Linked DNA regions of Homo sapiens. The protein of the gene in region 1 purifies or fractionates together with the protein of each later gene. This does not show direct contact. Each region holds a gene or a part of one and is shown on either strand. Other genes may lie near its edges. The genes, in order: ORC3 and LRWD1.

Region 1 (9,968 bases):
AATTGCCCAGTCTCGCCTATGTCTTTATCAGCGGTGTGAGAACAGACTAATACAGTAAATTGGTACCAGTAGAGTGGGGCACTGCTGAAAAGATACCCAAAAATGTGGAAGTGACTTTGGAACTGGATGACAGGCAGAGGTTGGAACAGTTTGGAGGGCTCAGAAGACAGGAAAATGTGGGAAAGTTTGTAACTACCTAGAGACTTATTGAATGTCTTTGACCAAAATGCTGATAATGATATGGACAATGAAACAGGCTGAGGGGGTCTCAGATGGAGATGACAAACTTGTTGGAAACTGGAGCAAAGGTGACTCTTGTTATGTTTTAGCAAAGAGACTGGCGGCATTTTGCCCCTGCCCCAGAGATTTGTGGAACTTTGAACTTGAGGGAGATGATTTTGGGTATCCTGAGGAACAAATTTCTAAGCAGCAAAGCATTCAAGAGGTGACTTGAGTTCTGTTAAAGGCATTCCATTTTATGAGGGAAGCAGGGCATAAAAGTTTGGAAAATTTGCAGCCTGACAATGAGATAGAAAAGAAAATCCCATTTCTGAGGAGAAATTCAAGTCAGCTGCAGAAATTTCCGTAAGTAACAAAGAGCCAAACGTTAATCCCCAAAACAATGGAGAAAATATCTCCAGGGCATGTCAGAGGTCTTCATGGCAGCCCCTCCCATCACAAGCCTGGAGACCTAGGAGGCAAAAGCGATTTCACGGGCTGGGCCCAGAGTCCCCGTGCTGTGTGCAGCTTAGGAAATTGGTGCTGTGTCCTAGCCACTCCAGCTGTGGCTGAAAAGGGCCAACACAAAGTTCGGGCCACGGCTTCAGAGAGTGCAAGCCCCAAGCCCTGGCAGCTTCCACATCGTGTTGAGCCTGTGAGTGCACAGAACTGGGGTGTGGGAACCTCCGTCTAGATTTCAGAAGATGTATGGAAAAGCCTGGGTGTCCAGGCAGAAGTTTGCTGTAGGGGCAGGGTCCTCATGGAGAACCTCTGCTAGGGCAGTGTGAAAGGGAAATGTGGGGTTGGAGTCCCCACACAGAGTCCTTACTGGGGCACTGCCTAGTGGAGCTGTGAGAAAAGGGCTACCATCCTCTACACCCCAGAATGGTAGATCCACCAACAGCTTGCACCGTGTGCCTGGAAAAGCTGCAGACACTTAACACCAGCCCATGAAGGCAGCCAGGAGGGAGGCTGTAACCTGCAAAGCAACAGGGGTGAAGCTGCCAAAGACCATGGGAACCCACCTCTTGCATCAGCATGACCTGGATGTGAGAAATGGAGTCAAAGGAGATCATCTGGAGCTGTAAGACTTGACTACCTCGCTGGATTTCAGATTTGCATGGGGCCTGTAACTCCTTTGTTTTGGCCAATTTCTCCCATTTGGAATGGCTGTATTTACCCAATGCCTGTACCCCCATTGTATCTAGGAAGTAACTAACTTGCTTTTGATTCTACAGGCTCATAGGCAGAAGGGACTTGCCTTGTCTCGGATGAGACTTTGGACTGTGGACTATTGAGTTAATGCTGAAATGAGTTAGGACTTTGGGGGACTGTTGGGAAGGCATGATTGGTTTTGAAATGTGAGGACATGTGATTTGGGAGGGGCCAGGGGCAGAATGATATGGTTTGGTTGTGTCCCCACCCAAATCTCATCTTGAATTCCCAAGTGCTATGGGAGGGACCTGGTGGGCGGTAATTGAATCATGGGAGCAAGTCTTTCCTGTGCTGTTCTCATGATAGTGAATAAGTCTCATGAGATCTGATGGTTTTATAAAGAGGAGTTCCCCTGTACAAGCTCTCTCACTTTGCCTGCTGCCATCTATGTAAGATGTGACTTGCTCCTCCTTGCCTTCCACCATGATTGTGAGGCCTCCCCAGCCAAGTGGAACTATGAGTCCATTAAACCTCTTTCTTTTGTAAATTGCCCAGTCTCAGGTGTGTCTTTATCAGCAGCGTGAGAACAGACTAATACAGTCAATATTAAAGAATCATACTTGCATTTATGTAGAAACATAGTTAATTAACTTTAGTTGCTAAGGTCTAGGAAAATGTTAGTATTTGTTGTCAAGAGCAGCATGACAAATCAGTTAGGAAACAGTCCACTAAAAACTTCAAATCATTTTATACAAAATGTAAGGAGTCAGGCTGGGTGTGGCGGCTCATGCCTGTAATCCCAGCACTTTGGGAGGCCAAGGCAGGTAGATCACTTGAGGTCAGGAGTTCCAGACCAGCCTGGCCAATATGGTACCCTGTGTCTACTAAAAATACAAATTAGCCAGGCGTGGCGGCACACCTCATGAAGTCCCAGCTACTTGAGATGCTGCGGCAGGAGAATCACTTGAACCTGGGAGGCAGAGGTTGCAGTGAGCCAAGATTTCGTCACTGCACTCCAGCCTGGATGACAGAGCTAGACTCCTTCTCAAAAAAATAAAAATTAGAAAAATCAAAATGTAAGAGTCAAAATACATTGTTACTACAAAGTCTACAAATTCTGTAAAAATTTACATTATAAACCTATAATTTTCTATTGAGTAAAGATATAAAGAGATTAAGTACATAGAGAGATATGATCACTCTTTTCATAAAGCTTATATTTTACCTGAAGAGGTAATATACAAAATCACTGTAAAACTATAAAACACTACAAAAATTATTAAGTAAAAATATTAAAGTATGTGAAGGAATATGTTCAATATAGTACTCAGAGAGTTGTAGAGGCTTATTGTTAACAGTTATCTTAACAATCTATTATTGGCAGTTTTCTTTTCATCCTATTTCACTGGTAAAACTTATTCTTTTTACCTTATCGAGTACCGTAGTCAGGTGCTCCTTACAAGACAAAGATTGGAACAGTTCTATGCACAATAGAGATGATACTGCATGAGGAAGCAATCGGTGGATGATAATAGGAGATGTGGCTATTCCAAAAATGAGTATTAGTGGAAATTCATGGAGATGTTGACTAGTTTTGAAAGACAGACACAAAAGTGAAATTTATTTAGCAAATATATTTCAATACATCATATTTCAACATAAGACAAACTTTATTTTAATGCTTACTTTATAAGACACTGTTAAGGATTATCATTGCAAACACTAAAATTTTCTAAGTCTTTCACTTTCTTCTATTAAACAGAGAAATAATTACTTTCCAGACAGTCTAGCTTTGAAATCAATCTCTTAATAAATCCTCTCATTTTATAAATAAGAACAGAGAGGTCCAGAAAGTTTTCCTGAAGATTATACCATCTTTTTTCTTTTTTTTTTTTCAGATGGAGTCCTGCTCTGTCACCCAGACTGGAGTGCAGTGGTGCAATCTCGGCTCACTGCAACCTCCACCTCCTGGGTTCAAGCGATTCTCCTGCCTCAGCCTCCCGAGTAGCTGGGACTACATGTGCGTGCCACCATGCCTAATTTTTTAATTTTAGTGGAGATGGGGTTTCACCATATTGGTCAGGCTGGTCTCAAACTCCTGACTTCATGTGATCCACCCACTTCGGCCTCCCAAAGTGCTGGGATTACAGGCGTGAGCCACCATGCCCGGGCCGAAGATTATACAATCTTAAGTGTTAGAAGAGATGTTAGATACCATTCCATTTAATATCTCATTCAAAGTTTGAGCCCTTTCTATAGTCTTCCTCACTTTTGATGGCTAAGGTAGTCATTAAGTCTAAGCTCCAAAAAAAAGTACAGCTTTTCTGTCACTATTTTGTACTATGTACTTTCCAAGCATGCTAAGCAGTTCAGTGTCAGCATTAAGAAAAGTCCTAGGATCTGGGCTGGGTGCAATGGTTCATGCAAGTCCTAGGATCTGGGCTGGGTGCGATGGTTCATGTCTGTAATCCCAGCACGTTGGGAGACTGAGGAGGGCAGATCTCTTGAGGCCAAGAGTTTGAGACCAGCCTGGGCAACACGGCAAAACCCCATCTCTACAAAAAATACAAAAATTAGCCGGGCATGGTGGTGTGTGCCTATAGTCCTAGCTACTTGGGGACCTGAGAAGGGAGGACTGCTTAAGCCCAGGAGGTGGAGGGTGCAGTGAGCCAAGATCATGTCACTGCGCTCTAGCCTGGGTGACAGAGCCAGACCCTGTCTCAAAAAAAAAAAAAAAAAAAAGAAAAGTCCTAATATATAGAACTCTTAGAATCAATGAAGGAAAAAAGATCCTATCAAAGTAGAAATTTAAAGTATATTAGTAGGCCGGGCGCGGTGGCTCACGCCTGTAATCCCAGCACTTTGGGAGGCCGAGGCGGGTGGATCATGAGGTCAGGAGATCGAGACCATCCTGGCTAACAAGGTGAAACCCCGTCTCTACTAAAAATACAAAAAATTAGCCAGGCGCGGTGGCGGGCGCCTGTAGTCCCAGCTACTCGGGAGGCTGAGGCAGGAGAATGGCGTGAACCCGGGAAGCGGAGCTTGCAGTGAGCCGAGATTGCGCCACTGCAGTCCGCAGTCCGACCTGGGCGACAGAGCGAGACTCCGTCTCAAAAAAAATAAAAAATAAAAAAAAATAAAGTATATTAGTAAATTAGCTGGGTGTGGTGGCTCATGTCTGTAATCCTAGCACTTTGGGAGGCCCCAAAGAGCACTAAGGAAGGCAGATCACCTGAGGTCAGGAGTTTGAGACCAGCCTGGCTAATATGGTGAAACCCTGTCTCTACTAAAAATACAAAAATTAGCTAGGCGTGGCAGCGGGCACCTGTAATCCCAGCTACTTGGGAGGCTGAGGCATGAGAACTGCTTGAACCCGGGAGGCGGAGGTGGCAGGGAGTTGAGAAGGCGCCACTGCACTCCAGCCTGGGGGACAGAGCGAGACTCTGTCTCCAAAAATAAAAATAAAAATAAAGTATACTAGTAAATTATTTAACACAATATATAGCTTTAGGCAAATGTAGCTATAACTATTAAAACAAGTTGACATATAGAAGAGGCCAAAATAAATTCCATCCTAAAAAATACACCAGGGAAAATGCATGTCACTGGATTTTAAAATAAGAGTTCATTATTTCAATTCTGAGTCTCACATGATTGCTTTGAAGACGCAATGCAATCGTGAAAATAGTTTCTCACTAGAAGTATTATATAAATGCAAAATAATGTTATTTAGAAGACACTTTTGCTTAGTAAAACTATATGCAACTCAGAGCATCTAAGGATGGATGGGTATCAGAAAATAAGACCTAATAAAAATCTCAACTTAGCCAGGTATGGTGGCTCACTCCTGTAATCCCAGCACTTTGGGAGGCCGAGGCAGGCAGATCACCTGAGGTCAGGAGTTCGAGAACAGCCTGGCCAACATGGTGAAACTCTGTTTCTACTAAAAATACAAAAATTAGCCAGGTGTGGTGGTGGGCACCTGTAATCCCAGCTACTCAGGAGGCTGAGGCAGAATTGCTTGAACCCAGGAGGCGGAGGCTGCAGTGAGCCGAGATCGTACCACTGCACTCCAGCCTGGGCAACAGAACAAAGCTCCATCTCAAAAAAAAAAAAGAAAAAAACAAAAACAACAAACTCAACCTGGAGTAGTTTATCTATTTAATGGGTGAGTAAGAGACAGTCAATCTTGGTGAGAAAAACCATATTTAATACTATCTTACCATGTCAATTTAAAACTGGCTAAATGTGCCTTTGATTCTCATTCTTGGCTCAAAAAGCAAATGGAAAATCTGATAGGAAGTCTTTGAATATTCAATTATAAAGAATTTGAATACTTTGATTTTTATCCAGTTGGTATTAAAATGAAGATTATACTTTTCAAGTTAAAAGTAGTATTTTCTTAAAAAGGGAGTTTTTCATAAAAGCCAGGTAATACACCATCTACCTGCTGATAATTATGAAGTCTTGTAGTACTTTTGTGGCAAAGCTTTCCATATCCTTCAAGATAACGACAACAGGAGGAGACTGCCATTGGCTAGAAGTAGTCCTTTTTTTGCTTAGCATTTTTGGGTCCGTCTTCTTTTAAGCCATTGCAGAAAGAAAGAGTTAAAGGTAAGCCTTACCACTCAAACAATGTTATAATGCCACATGTTGACATATCTCTCTTTAAATTTCACAATAACACTGTTTATTTTTTTTCTACCACACGATAAATAGAAACTCAGGTTACTAGAATCTTGCTGTGTCTGACATGGGAATAATAACCAAGAAGAAAAAGGTTCAGTAAAAATCTATAACTCATATGAAATATTTATATTTTCTGCTAAGGAAATGACAGAAAAAAACATGGAAGAGGAAATTTTCTACAAAATTGATTTTTCTGTTGGTAGAAAGTTATATTCTGCTTTGCTTTATAGTGAGAACTAGTATTTTTAATGAAAAAAATATAATGAATAGTAGTGCTTGCTACTCTGCCACTGTGAAATTTCAAGCCTGAAATGGATACTAGGTATCATCTGGTCCAATCTCAATTTTTAAAAAGATATCTGACATAAACCAAAAGTAGCATTTTATCTGGAAAGTCTAAAATTGTGGAGCAAATCAGGTATTATGGTAAGTATTAGACGTAGTTTAGTCCCTATATAAAGCAAAATGAAACTTCACTTACGATGATTTCAGCAAAAATGTTGATTGGAAAATGTAACCACAGTATTTTTTTTCCCATACTGTCTGGCTACACAGCACCATAACCTAAGACTATGGTTTTATGACGCAATTACCTAGTGTTAACCTAGGTTATTATTTTTCACCAGACTGTCATGGTAGAATGGAACTTCTTTTTACTTATCTGTTTGTCTAACATACTTTACTTAAAGAACACTGATTCCCTAAGAACTCTAAACATAAAACAAATTAGACTTTAGAAAATACATGATTATTCTTCATTGAACTAAGTTGACAGTGGATACTAGCAGCATGGTTCTATTGGACAAAGCAAACATTGAGGAACATAAGAGATAATATACTAAAGTTATAGTTACTGTCACAGAGATGGAACATGCAACAGAAGCAATTCCTGATGCTCTGTTTTTGTCATTAGAGGACATTCTCCAACAAATAATATGTCCTTGTAAAAACCTAAGCACTTACCTGGAATTAGGCTGCATACTAATAAAAGAACATTTTAAAATTCGAGTAGCATTAGAAAAAATAAATACCTACTTTTAAATTAACACCTAGTGCTGCAGAAACATATCCTTGTTAGATCAAAACAGTACTGTCTAATATTATTCCAAGCCACATCAATCATACGTCAATTTCCTGGGAGAAAATCATCAGTTTATATCTACCTGTGTGACAGTCATATACCAACTGGAAAGTGAATCCATTGAATAATGTGTCTTTCTTTGGGTGACGTGAACACTTTCCTCCTCTTTGGATTTTATATCTACACAGCAGTCCATCAACTGTGAGATCAACTTTTGCAAAAAATGTTTCATATCTGTGGAATATAAAAAGTAAGAAAGCTTATCTCTGCCTCTTCTAAAAATAAAACCAAAGCTCTTGAAACTTCTTGCTGAGTGTATTACTTTTTTTTTTGGTAGAATGTGTTTTTTTATACTTACCATCAATACAGCTAATGTAACATTTAACATATTAACTACTGATGCTCATTAGTACCTTCATTAATTCAGACTAAGACTAAACCAAAGCTTATGTATATTATCTTTATTTTTTTTTTTTGAGATGGAGTCTCGCTCTGTTGCCCAGGCTGGAGTACAGTGGCAGGATCTCGGCTCAATACAACCTCTGCCTCCCGGGTTCAAGCAATTCTCCTGCCTCAAGCCTCCCCAGTAGCTGGGATTACAGGCGCGTGCCACCATACCCAGCTAATTTTTGTATTTTTTAGTAGAGACGGGGTTTTGCCATGTTGGCCAGGCTGGTCTCGAACTCCTCACCTCATGATCTGCCTGCCTCAGCCTCCCAAAGTGCTGGGATTACAAGCATCAAACACTGCTCCCAGCCATTTATGTATATTATCTATAATAAAAAGGTCACAGAAGCAAATGTGTAGATATGCAAACTATAAATTTTAGGAATATGTATTTAAATTACATAGGAAAATAAACAGTTTTCAAGTTCCCTAAGAAAAATCAAGTGTCATATGAATTATTTTACTGATTATAAATCTTTCATATAGCCATTTTTAAAGATGCCTTTAAGGGCTTTTACTTAATTTCAATCAGTTTATGAATATGAAAGCAATATAAGCACATAAATCTCTTTTATCAATCTAATCCAAACAAATTTTACCACATTAGGGCCAGGCATGGTGACTCAAGATGTAATCCCAGCACTTTGGGAAGCCAAGGCAGGAGGATTGTTTGAGCCCAGGAGTTCAAGACCAGTCTGGACAACACAGCAAGACCCAATCTCTACAAACAACAACAACAACAAAACCCCACAATGTAGCTGATGTAGCTGAGCGTAATGGCATGCACCTGTAGTCCTAGGTACTGGGGAAGCTGAAGTGGGAGAACTGCTTGAGGCCAGGAGTTCAAGCTGCACTGAGCTATGATCATGCTACTGTAGTACAGCCTAGGCAACAGAGTGAGACCCTGTCTCAAAAGAAAAAAAAAAAAAGCTTTTTAATATATTAGTGTGAACACTCTTTATGATTTCATGGGTTCACATGCTCAGGATTACCTCTGTCAGTGGACTATTTTTCACCATGGTGGCTTTTCAAAGTGGGACAATAAGATGATTTATGGCTGAAACATGAGCCCATGTGGTCTACTCTCTTTTGAGCTGACAAGAGCTCCTCATTCCCCAATTCTCAGCTTTCTGTCCTAAGTCTTTCTACTTATTAAACGTTTCACTGGGTTAAAGAATGCATCTCACAAAATGCCTGGACTGCTACCGGCAGTTAAGCTGATAGGGCAGAAATGGGTCAAGAACAAAGACAGCAAAAGAAGGCAGAGTTCTGTAATAGTCACAATTACTCTGAGAGCCCCCAAACCTCACCCTGCCTAAAACATAGCACTGTGTTCTTTCCACCAAAAAAAGGGATAAAGAAAGCCTGAAAAAGAGAGAAAAGGATGAAAGAAGTCTGTAACATCTCATCAAGGTTATTATGGCATTTATATTTTTACCTGGACAATCTTTAGCTTGCAATGAGACTACATATGGTGTGACATTATTCTGAAGGGCCTCTGTTAGACTTCCGAATGTCAAATCATGATCTGTGACATTCACACCTATGAGATAATACATCAATATTACATCACCATTTTTATTAATAATAATTTAATGACAAAAGCTATTTAACATATCAAGCAAACAAGTAAAAACATTTAAAAAATGATTAATAACAGAAACCAAGGAAATATACTATATAAATGATATCCATTAACAATAGCTATCCAAAGGCATAAACTATATTTGTCAGGAAAGATATTTTGCACAATTCCTCTTTCAAACAAATTACTGGGATGTGCACTTGAAAGCTTCTTTTTTTTTTTTTTGAGACAGAATCTCGCTCTGTCATCCAGGCTGGAGTGCAGCAGCTCAATCTCAGCTCACTGCATCCTTCACCTCCCAAGTTCAGGTGATTCTCCTGCCTCAGCCTCCTGAGTAGCTGGAATTACAGGCATGTGCCACCACACCGGCTAATTTTTGTAGTTTTAATAGAGACAGGGTTTCACCACGTTGGCCAGGCTGGTCTCAAACTCCCGACCTCAAGTGATCCACCCGCCTCAGCCTCCCAACGTGCTGGGATTACAGGCGTGAGCCACTGTGCCCAGCCGACCCTTGAAAACATCTTAGAAGTAATTTCATTGCTTTGTCAAATTCCTAACAAGCTCTTTAAGGAAATTAAAACTGGCCAGGTGCAGTATAGCTCATGCCCATAATCCCAGCACTTTGGGAGGATCACTTGAAGCCAGGAGTTCAAGAACAGCCTGGCAAACATGGTGAGAACCTGTCTCTATAAAAATTTTAAAAAAGTAAAACTATGGGTTCTTTTGGTATTTACGGAATCCCTGGTTTTCATTTCTGCAAATCAGAGTTTCAGGGCACCGCATACAGTTATC
Region 2 (9,995 bases), on another chromosome or scaffold:
TCTACCTGCTTCCTCCGTCCAGACTGGGAGAGCTTCCAGGGGTCACGGTCCATGAGCCGCACCAACTCGGCTTCTTCCTCCCGGGTCACAAAGTCCTCGATCAGCATCACTCCTGGGAAGGGGAAGGCCCAGCCCTCAAAGTCAGACTCCTCTGTGCCCACGGCCCAGCCGGTGTCGGAGCAGTAAATGAAACGGTATGTTTTCTGCAAAAGAAACACAAGTCCACAGGCTGGGCAACACAGCGAGACCCGGTCCCTACGAAAAGTTAAAACAGGCCAGGTGCGGTGGCTCACGCCTGTAATTCCAGCACTTTGGGAGGCCGAGGTGGGTGGATCACCTGAGGTCAGGAGTTCAAGACCAGCCTGGCCAACATGGTGAAACCCCATCTCTACTAAAAATACAAAAATTAGCCAGGCATGGTGGCAGGTGCCTGTAATCCCAGCTACTCAGGAGGCTGAAGCTGGAGAATTGCTTAAACCCAGAAGGCAGAGGTTGCAGTGAGCCAAGATGGCACCACTGCACTCCAGCCTGGGCGACAGAGTGAGACTCAAAAAAAAAAAAAAAGTTTAAATAAAAATTAGCCGGGTGTGGCAGAGCGCACTTGTCATTTCAGCTACTCAGGAGGCTGAGGCGGGAGGATCATTTGAGCCCAGGAGGTTGAGGCTACAGTGAGCCATGGTCGCGCTACTGCACTCCAGCCTGGACAACAAAGCAAGACCCTGTCTCAAAAAAAAAAAAAGAAAAAAAAAAAAGGAAAGACACATCCTGGAGCCATGGCAGCCCCTGGCACTTGTGTGCCCTCAGGAGACCCTCTGATGGCTCATTCCTCCCCTCAGGACACTGTGGAAGGCAGCTGGAGTCTAGGGGGAGGTGCAGGCAGAGCCTCTGCCCCAGGCTGACCGGGGAAGGCCCGCAGCCCTCTTGAGCTAACACGAATTTGATTGGTTTCCTTTCTCACTTTCCTCCCCTGTAAAAGAGAAGGGTTTGTACAACATGTTTTTCCTTCTCCATTTTACAAAGGAGGCTCAGCAAAGTTAAGGAACCAGCCCGAGGCTGGACAGCACCTCCTGCACTCCCATCTCCTCAGCTGCTTCCAGGAGGCCCCAAACTGCCTGACTACCTTGAATCTGTGCACCCTAATCTCTTTAGGTCTTTGCTGATGCCACCCCGGTGTCCCAGGGGTTGGCCCGTGCCTATCACCAGCGTGAGGGTCACCTAGGAGGGCAGCCAACTTCCCTACAGAGCTGAGCGTTCAGTTGAGCTCCTCAGTGTCCCAACCTCCCTTCTCCTCACTCTTGTCCTCAGGGCACCTTTCCAGACCCAGCATCACCCCTCAATCCTCATACCCTGGGCTGTCACTCAACTCCCACCCCATGTCCCTCTCTGCTCTGCCACCAACCCCGAGGCCTGGCGGTACTCTAAGGGTTCCCCCATGCTAAAGAAAGTCTAGAAACCAGGCCAGGCACGGTGGCTCACACCTGTAATCCCAACACTTTGGGAGGCCAAGGTGGACTGATCACCTGGGGTCAGGAGTTCAAGACCAGCCTGGCCAACATGGCAAAACCCCGTCTCTATTAAAAATACAAAAACTAGCCGGGCGTCGTGGTGCATGCCTGTAATCCCAGCTACTCAGGTGGCTGAGGCAGGAGAATCCCTTGAACCCGGGAGGTGGAGATTGCAGTGAGCCAAGATCGTGCTAGTGGACACCAGCCTGGGTGACACAGTGAGACCCCATCTTGAAAATAATAATAATACTTTTTGTTTGTTTGTTTGTTTGTTTGAGATGGAGTCTCGCTCTGTCACCAGAACTGGAGTGCAGTGGCACGATCTCGGCTCACTGCAACCTCTACCTCCTGGGTTCAAGCGATTCTCCTGCCTCAACCTCCCGAGTAGCTGGGACTACAGGTGCGCGCCACCATGCCCAGCTAATTTTTTTCTTGTATTTTAGTAGAGACGAGGTTTCACCATGTTGACCAGGATGGTCTTGAACTCCTGACCTTGTGATCCTCCCGCCTTGGCCTCCCAAAGTGCTGGGATTACAGGCGTGAACCACCATGCCCAGCCAATAGTAAATTTTTAAAAAAGAGTTTCGCCAATGAAATAGCCAGTATTTGCATCTGTGGCACTGAACATTTTACATGGATTATCTAGTTTCATCCCCAGGACAGCCCCAAGAGGAAGGTACCATAACTATCATGGGCAGGAGGTGTGGAGGTTCTGGCCGGAGTCACCCAGTGAGGACTTCGGAGGCCACCAGAACTCAGCCCTGGGCTCTGTGGCCTGTCTCCTCTTCCTCTTCCATCTCCAGGCTCCTCACACCCTGGGCTGCCACTCACTGTGGGCCGCTGTCTTTCTCTGTTCTTCCCTCCAGGGACCTCAGCCCCTTCCAATGCTTTACTTCCAGCCACCGACTCCAGCTCAGACCCCTCCTGAGATTGGCACTATCTCCTCCTGCTCCTGGGGCCCTCCCACGGGAAACATTAAAACTGGGAGTCCCCCGTGTGTCGGCTGAGCAGGCTGGACTTGTCCGAAAGGCCATGGAGCGCTCTTGAAGGGTTTTAAAGGAGTGACGAGGTCAAATGTGAATTTTAGAAAGATCTGGAGGGGGGAGGGGCAGATATGAAGGGTGGAGGCTGGAAAGCCAGTGAGGAACTGCCCCAGTGCCCTGAGATCCTGGATACCTCACTCTCCTTGTTCCATAGCCATCGGGTTGGGAAGATGTCACCTCCACATGGCCACTGGAACGGGTCAGACTTTCCGCAATTTTTTTCTTTTCTTTTTTTTTGTTTGAGGCAGGGTCTCGCTCTGTCACTCAGGCTGGAGTGTAGTGGCGCTCACAGCTCACTGCAGCCTTGACCTCCTGGGCTCAGGCAATCCTCCCACCTCAGCCTCCCAAGTAACTGGGACTACAAGCACACACCACCACACCTAGCTAATTTTTAAATTTTTTGTAGAGACAGGGTCTTGCTATGTTGTCCAAGCTGGTCTCAAACTCCTAGACTCAGGCGAGCCTCCTGCCTCAGCCTCCCAAAGGGCTGGGATTATAGGCATGAGCCACCGCACCTGGCCCCTTCCACAAATTAAAACTCTTAAGTTCATTCATATTGTTGTACAGCCGTCACCACCATTCAGAACTTTTTCATCTTGCAAAACTGAAACTCTTTCCCTATTAAACAACAGGTCCCCATCTCCCCTTCCTGAGCCCTTGGCAACAACCCTTCTACTTTCTGTCCCTGTGACTACCCTACGTAGCTCACACAACAGGAATCATGCAGTATTTGTCTTCTGTGACTGCTTCCTTAACTTAGCATCGTGTCCCCAAGGTTCGTCCATGCTGTAACATATGTCAAAATGTCCTTTTTTTTTTTTTTTTTTTTGAGACAGGGTCTCACTATGTTGCCCAAGCTGGAGTGCAGTGGCGTGATCACAGCTCACTGCAGCCTTGACCTCCCAGGCTCAAGCAACCCTCCCACCTCAGCCTCCTGGGTAGCTGGGACTACAGGTACGTGTCACCATGTATGGTTAATTTTTTTGTAGAGGTGGGATTTCACCATGTTGCCCATGCTGGTCTCAAACTCCTGGGCTCTGGCAATCTGCCTGCCTCGGTCTCCCAAAGTGCTGGAATTACAGGTGTGAGCCACTGTGCCCGGCCTGTCCTTCCTTTTTAAGGCTGAATAGTATTCTACTATGTGTATGCACCACATTTTGTGGATCAAGTCATCTCTTTTTTTTTTTTTTTTTTTTTTTTTGAGAAGGAGTCTTGCTCTGTCACCTGAGCTGGAGTGCAGTGGTGCGATCTTGGCTCACTGCAACCTCTGCCTCCTGGGTTCAAGCGATTCTCCTGCCTCAGCCTCCCGAGTAGCTGGGATTACAGATGTGCCTCACCAAGCCCGGCAAGTTTTTGTAATTTTAGTAGAGGCAGGGTTTCGCCATGTTAGCCAGGCAGGTCTCAAACTCCTGACCTCAGGTGATCTGCCCACCTCAGCCTCCCAAAGTGCTGGGATTACAGGCGTGAGCCACTGAACCCGGCCCAGGTATCTTGATAGATGCTTGGTTTGCTTCCATCTTTGGGCTGTCATGAATAATGTCGTGAATATGAACATGGGTGTGCAAATATCTCTTCCAGACCCTGCTTTTAGTTCCTTTGGATATATACCCAGAAGCAGGATTGCGGATCATGGGTAATTCTATGTTTAATTCATGAGGCATGCCATGCTGTTTCCATAGGACCTTGGGCACTTTTACCATGGACGTTGGGGCAGTCTTCACTGGCTTACCAGCCTCCACACCTTCATATCTGCCCGTTCCCTTCCCAGGATCTTTCTAAAATTCACATTTGACTTCATCACTCCTTTAAAACCCTTCAAGAGCTCTCCAGGGCCTTTGGGACAAGTCCAGCCTGCTCAGCTGATGCACCGGGGAGCATCTGTGATCAGACCTCCCCCCCCCCACAACCTCTCCAGCCTCATCTCTCTCACCTGAGGCATCACCAATCCACCTTCCTACCCCACGCAGTTTTCTGGGTTGGAATGCCCTTGCAACCAACCACAGTCCTTCCATGCCAGCCCAAAGGCGCTGAGTTCTTTTTCTTTTTTTATTTATTTTCTTTTTGTGAGACAGAGTCTCGCTCTGTCGCCCAGGCTGAAGTGAGGTGGCTCGATCATAGCTCACTGCAGCCTCCAGCTCCTGGGTTGCAGCGATCCTTGAGTTCCTTTTCGTTAGTTAACTGGAATTCACTGTCTCCTTGCCCATTGCAGTCCACGGCCTTCAGGCACCGTTGGACTGGTATTCAGCACCCTCGATCGACCCTTTCCGTGTCATCTCCCTGCAGGCCCGTGAAGCTCCCAGCGCCAGACCCGAGAGGCTACGTCGAGGTTTACAGGCAGATCCCCCCAGAGTCCCCGAGGTGACCTGTAATCGAACCCACCCACGTTCCAGCTCCTTCCCCACTCCCAAGCCCGCTCCTTAAAGCCCTCATCTCCTCACCCTGCATCACCCCTACCGTAAGGGTCCCTCACAGGCTTCGATCCCGGCCCCTATCATGGCCAAGCTGGACCTCAGTTTCCCCAGATGCAGAGCGACGTTTGTGGGCGCGGCCCCTCTCCCACCCCTTACCGCTGGGGGCAGCTCCCAGGGCGGGTCACTGCCGCGCTGCCGCTCGCAGATCAGACAGGTCCGGATGCCCTTGCAACCGCATTCCCGAAGGACTTCGGGGGTCTCGGCGGCAGCCGCCGCCATCGCGCCGTCCGCGTGGCCAGTGCGCAGGCGCGGCCGTGGGGGCCGCTGGGAGTTGTAGTCCGCGCCGGGCGGGGGCACGAGGCCTGGGTTCCGCTTCCTTCCGGTCGTTAACGCCCACGGGCTCGCGCGGCGCCGCCTCCTGGGCTCAGTTACCGCGGACGCCAGTGCCGGGCTCCAGGAGACGCAGGGCGACGCCACACGCCGGGGTGGCCGACTGGGTCAGCGCGGGCTGCGCCTCCTCGCCATGGGCCCCCTCTCGGCGCGGCTGCTAATGCAGCGCGGGCGCCCCAAGAGCGACCGGCTGGGGAAGATCCGGAGTCTGGAGTAAGAGCCGGGCAGCGGGTGAGGCTGTGTCCTCGGGGCCGGGCGGTCGGGGAGAAGAGCGGGGACCCTCCCCAACGGCCCGCTTGTCCCCGTTATCGCCCTCTGGGTTCGGCAGAGTGGTCCAAATGTCTTCTTGTTGGGAGATCGTGGCCCCACCCGCTCGCCGGGAGCCCCGAGGGGCCTCATCCCCTGAAGGGAGCCCGGACAGTTAGGGGCACAGCCTGCCGCTATCGTTAGAGGGCCTGGGAAGCACAGACGAGCCCCCGAAGGATCAGGAAGAGCATCCTAGAGGGGGCTAGGATGCCCCCGAGTCCTAAAGTAGTTGCAGCTTTTTTTTTTTTTTTTTTTTTTTTTTTTTTTTTTTTGTTAAGTGGTGTGGAGTCGGGAGTAGTGGCGCGCGCTTCTAGTCCCAGCTACTCGAGAGGCTGAGGCGGGAGGATCCCTCAGCCCAGGAGTTGGAGGCAGCTGTGAGCTATGATCGCGCCTAGGCGACTGAGTGACACCCCGTCTCTAAAAATAAAGTAACGGGGGGATGGGCGGGGCGGCTACACTTGTACGAGAAATGTCAGGTGAAAAAGCCTTCTGAGGTACCCGGGGCAGATTGGTGTAGGGTGCAAAGCCTGCCCGCCCCCTAAGCCTTCTGCCCCCAACTCCAGCCTGTCAGGATTGGAGCTGCTTTCCGAGCACCTGGACCCCAAACTCCTGTGCCGCCTGACGCAGCTGCAGGAGCTTGACCTGTCTAACAACCACCTGGAGACGCTGCCGGACAACCTGGGCCTGTCCCACCTGCGTGTCCTCCGCTGCGCCAACAACCAGCTGGGGGATGTTACTGCCTTGTGCCAGTTCCCCAAGCTCGAGGAACTCAGCCTGGAGGGCAACCCCTTCCTGACGGTAAGTGGGAGCCTCCCACCAGCTTCATACCTGGGGCCAGGACTCTGTTGGGCTCAGGCTCAGCATCTCCTGAGCCACTGCTCTTCACCCTCTCTTCCCCAGGTCAATGACAACCTGAAAGTCTCCTTTCTCCTGCCCACGCTCCGTAAGGTCAATGGCAAGGATGCGTCCTCAACTTACTCTCAGGTGGAGAACCTGAATCGGGAGCTGACCAGCAGGGTAAGGGGATGAGAGGATTATTGTGTGCTTAGGAGCTGTGGGGGCATTGGGAGAATGATAGAATTGGACATCAGGAGGATGTTGAGGAGGGTGACTGATAGAGGCTCTTTGCCCCAACAGCCCCTAGCCTGATGTGCTACTTTATTTATTTATTTATTTTTTGAGATGGAGTCTCACTCCGTCGCCCAGGCTGGAGTGCAGTGATGCGATCTTGGCTCATTGCAACCTCTGCCTCCCAGGTTCAAGTGATTTTCCTGCCTCAGCCTCCCGAGTAACTAGGATTACAAGCACCTGCCACCATGCCCAGCTAATTTTTTTTGTATTTTTAGTAGAGACAGGGTTTCACCATGTTGGCCAGGCTGGCCTCAAACTCCTGGCCTTAGGTGATCTGCCCGCCTTGGCCTCCCAAAGTGTCGGGATTACAGGTATGAGTCACCACACCCGGCCTGACTCTTCTAAGTAGCTTTTTCTGGGGTGTTTCTTTTTTACCTTTTTTTTTTTTTTTTTTTTTTTTTTTTTTTTTTTTTAGAGACAGGGTCTCGCTCTGCTGCCCATGTTGAAGTGCAGTGGTGTGATCGTATCTCACTGCAGCCTCCAACTCCTGGGCTCAAGCGATCTTCCCGCCTTAGCCTTCTGAATAGCTGGGGCTTTAGGCGCATGCCACCACGTCTGGATCATTTTAAAATTTTTTGTAGAGATGGGATCTTGCTCTGTTCCCCAGGCTCCAACTCCTGGCCTCAAGCGATGCTTCTTCCTCAGCCTCCCAGTGGCTGGGACTATAGGCACCTGGGTTGTTGCTGGTGTGTGTGTGTGTGTGTGTGTGTGTAGGCACCTGGGTTGTTGCTGGGGTGTGTGTGTGTGTGTGTGTAGGCACCTGGGTTGTTGCTGGGGTGTGTGTGGGGTGTGTGTGTGTGTGTGTGTGTGTGTGTGTGTGTGTGTGTGTGTTTTATGAGGCTGTGATTCCAGGAGGCTTCCAGCAGGTGGCGGGATTGAGATTCCCTGAGATGGAGGGCTGGGTCCGGAGGAGCTGGGGTGGGCCGGGCCTGGATCTGGTCCCTCTTGCACCAGGTCACAGCTCACTGGGAGAAGTTCATGGCCACACTGGGTCCTGAAGAGGAGGCTGAGAAGGCCCAGGCGGACTTTGTGAAGTCGGCTGTCAGGGATGTCCGCTACGGGCCCGAGTCCCTCAGCGAGTTCACCCAGTGGCGGGTATGTCCCTGTCCCAATGTGCAGGGAGTCACTGGCTCTCGTATCTCTAGCTGCCTGGAGGTCCCTGGCCATGAAGGGCTGAGGGGCTGTGGGAGTGGGGTGAGTCAGGGTGGGCAGCCCTGTTGGCTGGAGAGGCCCTTCCCCAACTCTGGAAGCATAAGCTCCCCCTGACTATGCATCGGCAGGGCTGGGGGCACCTGGGACTCTGCCCAGCTTCCTGATGGCCTGGCCCCACCCAGGTGCGGATGATCTCTGAGGAGCTGGTGGCCGCCAGTAGGACCCAGGTGCAAAAGGCTAACAGCCCAGAGAAGCCCCCAGAAGCTGGAGCTGCCCACAAGCCCAGGGTGAGTGCAGCTCCCAGGGCTCTGAGGCCAGCCCAGTCCCTCCTCCCTGGAGAAGCTTCAGGAGACCAAGGCGTCCTGGGCATGTGCCCAGGAAGCACCCCAGGTCCTGGCTCACTCCCTAGGTGACCCCGGGCCAGCCTGGGCCTCCTGCATCCGCAGTGAGGTGGGGTCCAGCCTGTGATGGGGAGGAAGGAAGCCCCAGGCAGACAGGCCCATGGTCACAAGGCCCCCTCCACAGGCCAGACTGGCGGCCTTGAAACGGCCAGACGACGTCCCACTCAGCCTCTCTCCCAGCAAGCGGGCGTGTGCCTCCCCGTCGGCCCAGGTGGAGGGCAGCCCTGTGGCAGGCTCCGATGGCAGCCAGGTGAGCTGAGGTGGCAAGGAGCAGGTGGCAGATGAGTCGGGGCTGGGCAGCTGTGACCCTTCTCTCCCCCCACAGCCTGCTGTGAAGCTGGAGCCCCTGCACTTCCTGCAGTGCCACAGCAAGAACAACAGCCCCCAGGACCTCGAGACCCAGCTGTGGGCCTGTGCCTTCGAGCCGGCCTGGGAGGAGGGTACATGGTGGCGGGCAGGCGGGGCAAGGGCCGCTGGAAATAGGGCCGCCTGGATGGGTGGGGGATCAGGAGACAGAGCTTAAAAGGCGCCATCAAGGCTGGGAGGAGGAGGCTGCAGGGAGGACCTAGATGGGAAATGTCTCTGCTCATCCGACCTCTCAAAACCGGGCACTCAGGGGCCACATCCCAGACCGTGGCCACGTGCGGCGGGGAGGCTGTGTGCGTAATTGATTGCCAGACGGGCATCGTGCTCCACAAGTACAAGGCACCCGGCGAGGTGAGTGCAAGGCCCTGTCCCTGCTGGGCAAGGGTGCCCGACTGACTCCTGAACAGCAGCATGGGGATGGATGCAGGCTCGGCCCCCTGCCCCATGGCCTTTTTCTTTCATGCTGGGGCTCCCTCCCCCAGGCCCGGGCTACCCGCGTGTTCACACCAATAGCTCTGCCCCAGTGACTGTTTACTCTAACCCCCGCCCAGGAGTTCTTTTCTGTGGCCTGGACCGCTCTGATGGTGGTCACACAGGCTGGCCACAAGAAGCGCTGGAGTGTGCTGGCGGCTGCAGGCCTACGGGGCCTGGTCCGGCTGCTGCACGTGCGTGCCGGCTTCTGCTGCGGGGTCATCCGAGCCCACAAGAAGGCCATCGCCACCCTGTGCTTCAGCCCCGCCCACGAGACCCATCTCTTCAGTAAGCCCCTCCCCTTCACCCCTGGGACCCCCAAGCACCCCTGTCCTGCTGCCCCAGTAGCCTCCACGCTCCCCTCCCTGGGATGGCTGTGAGCTCGGGCGCCTGCCGGGCCCCAGTCTGCACCGCTCCGACTCTAGCTTTGGCAGGAAGCCATGTCGCTTCAACCCTGGCTTTATCCACAGCCTGCTCTGTGGCCTCGGAGTTTTCCAACAGCCTGGGCCACTCTGTCCCCTGTCAGTGACCTGGGGGGATGCCCCTGCCCCCGGGTGTGGCGCCCCTGTCAAGGGGGATGGATGAGCCACAGGAAGTGGCCGCTGGAGCCACCGCATCAGGTTAGATGGAGGAAACAGGGATTGGGGGCCCAGGAGTGTTCCTGTCTCCTAGCCTCGGCCCGCCCTCCCCGCCTCGGAGGGGCTGGCCTTGGGACCGTGGGCTCAGCCTGGGATGCAGCCAGCAGGAGGGAGCAGGGTCATCTCAGGGCCACTTCTCCCCTACCCCACCCCCTCTTCAGCGGCCTCCTATGACAAGCGG

The links.
Region 2: the proteins of ORC3 (region 1) and LRWD1 purify together in Homo sapiens (affinity purification with mass spectrometry; 4 studies listed by BioGRID and IntAct, with this or other methods). This does not show direct contact.

What each region holds. Positions count from the first base shown.
Region 1 is NC_000006.12:87,605,083-87,615,050, reverse strand, and holds part of ORC3 (origin recognition complex subunit 3), read right to left. Parts: intron 9,135-9,968; coding exon 9,030-9,134; intron 7,379-9,029; coding exon 7,227-7,378; intron 5,956-7,226; coding exon 5,822-5,955; intron 2,963-5,821; coding exon 2,803-2,962; intron 1-2,802. UniProt on the Homo sapiens protein: Component of the origin recognition complex (ORC) that binds origins of replication. DNA-binding is ATP-dependent. The specific DNA sequences that define origins of replication have not been identified yet.
Region 2 is NC_000007.14:102,459,599-102,469,593, forward strand, and holds the start of LRWD1 (leucine-rich repeat and WD repeat-containing protein 1), read left to right. Parts: upstream 1-5,385; 5' UTR 5,386-5,482; coding exon 5,483-5,562; exon of another isoform or gene 5,563-5,580; intron 5,581-6,143; exon of another isoform or gene 6,144-6,218; coding exon 6,219-6,453; intron 6,454-6,555; coding exon 6,556-6,672; intron 6,673-7,740; coding exon 7,741-7,881; intron 7,882-8,120; coding exon 8,121-8,225; intron 8,226-8,463; coding exon 8,464-8,589; intron 8,590-8,664; coding exon 8,665-8,779; intron 8,780-8,955; coding exon 8,956-9,056; intron 9,057-9,256; coding exon 9,257-9,464; intron 9,465-9,975; coding exon 9,976-9,995. Other genes in the region: ALKBH4 (alpha-ketoglutarate-dependent dioxygenase alkB homolog 4), read right to left, coding at 6-203, 5,116-5,238. UniProt on the Homo sapiens protein: Required for G1/S transition. Recruits and stabilizes the origin recognition complex (ORC) onto chromatin during G1 to establish pre-replication complex (preRC) and to heterochromatic sites in post-replicated cells.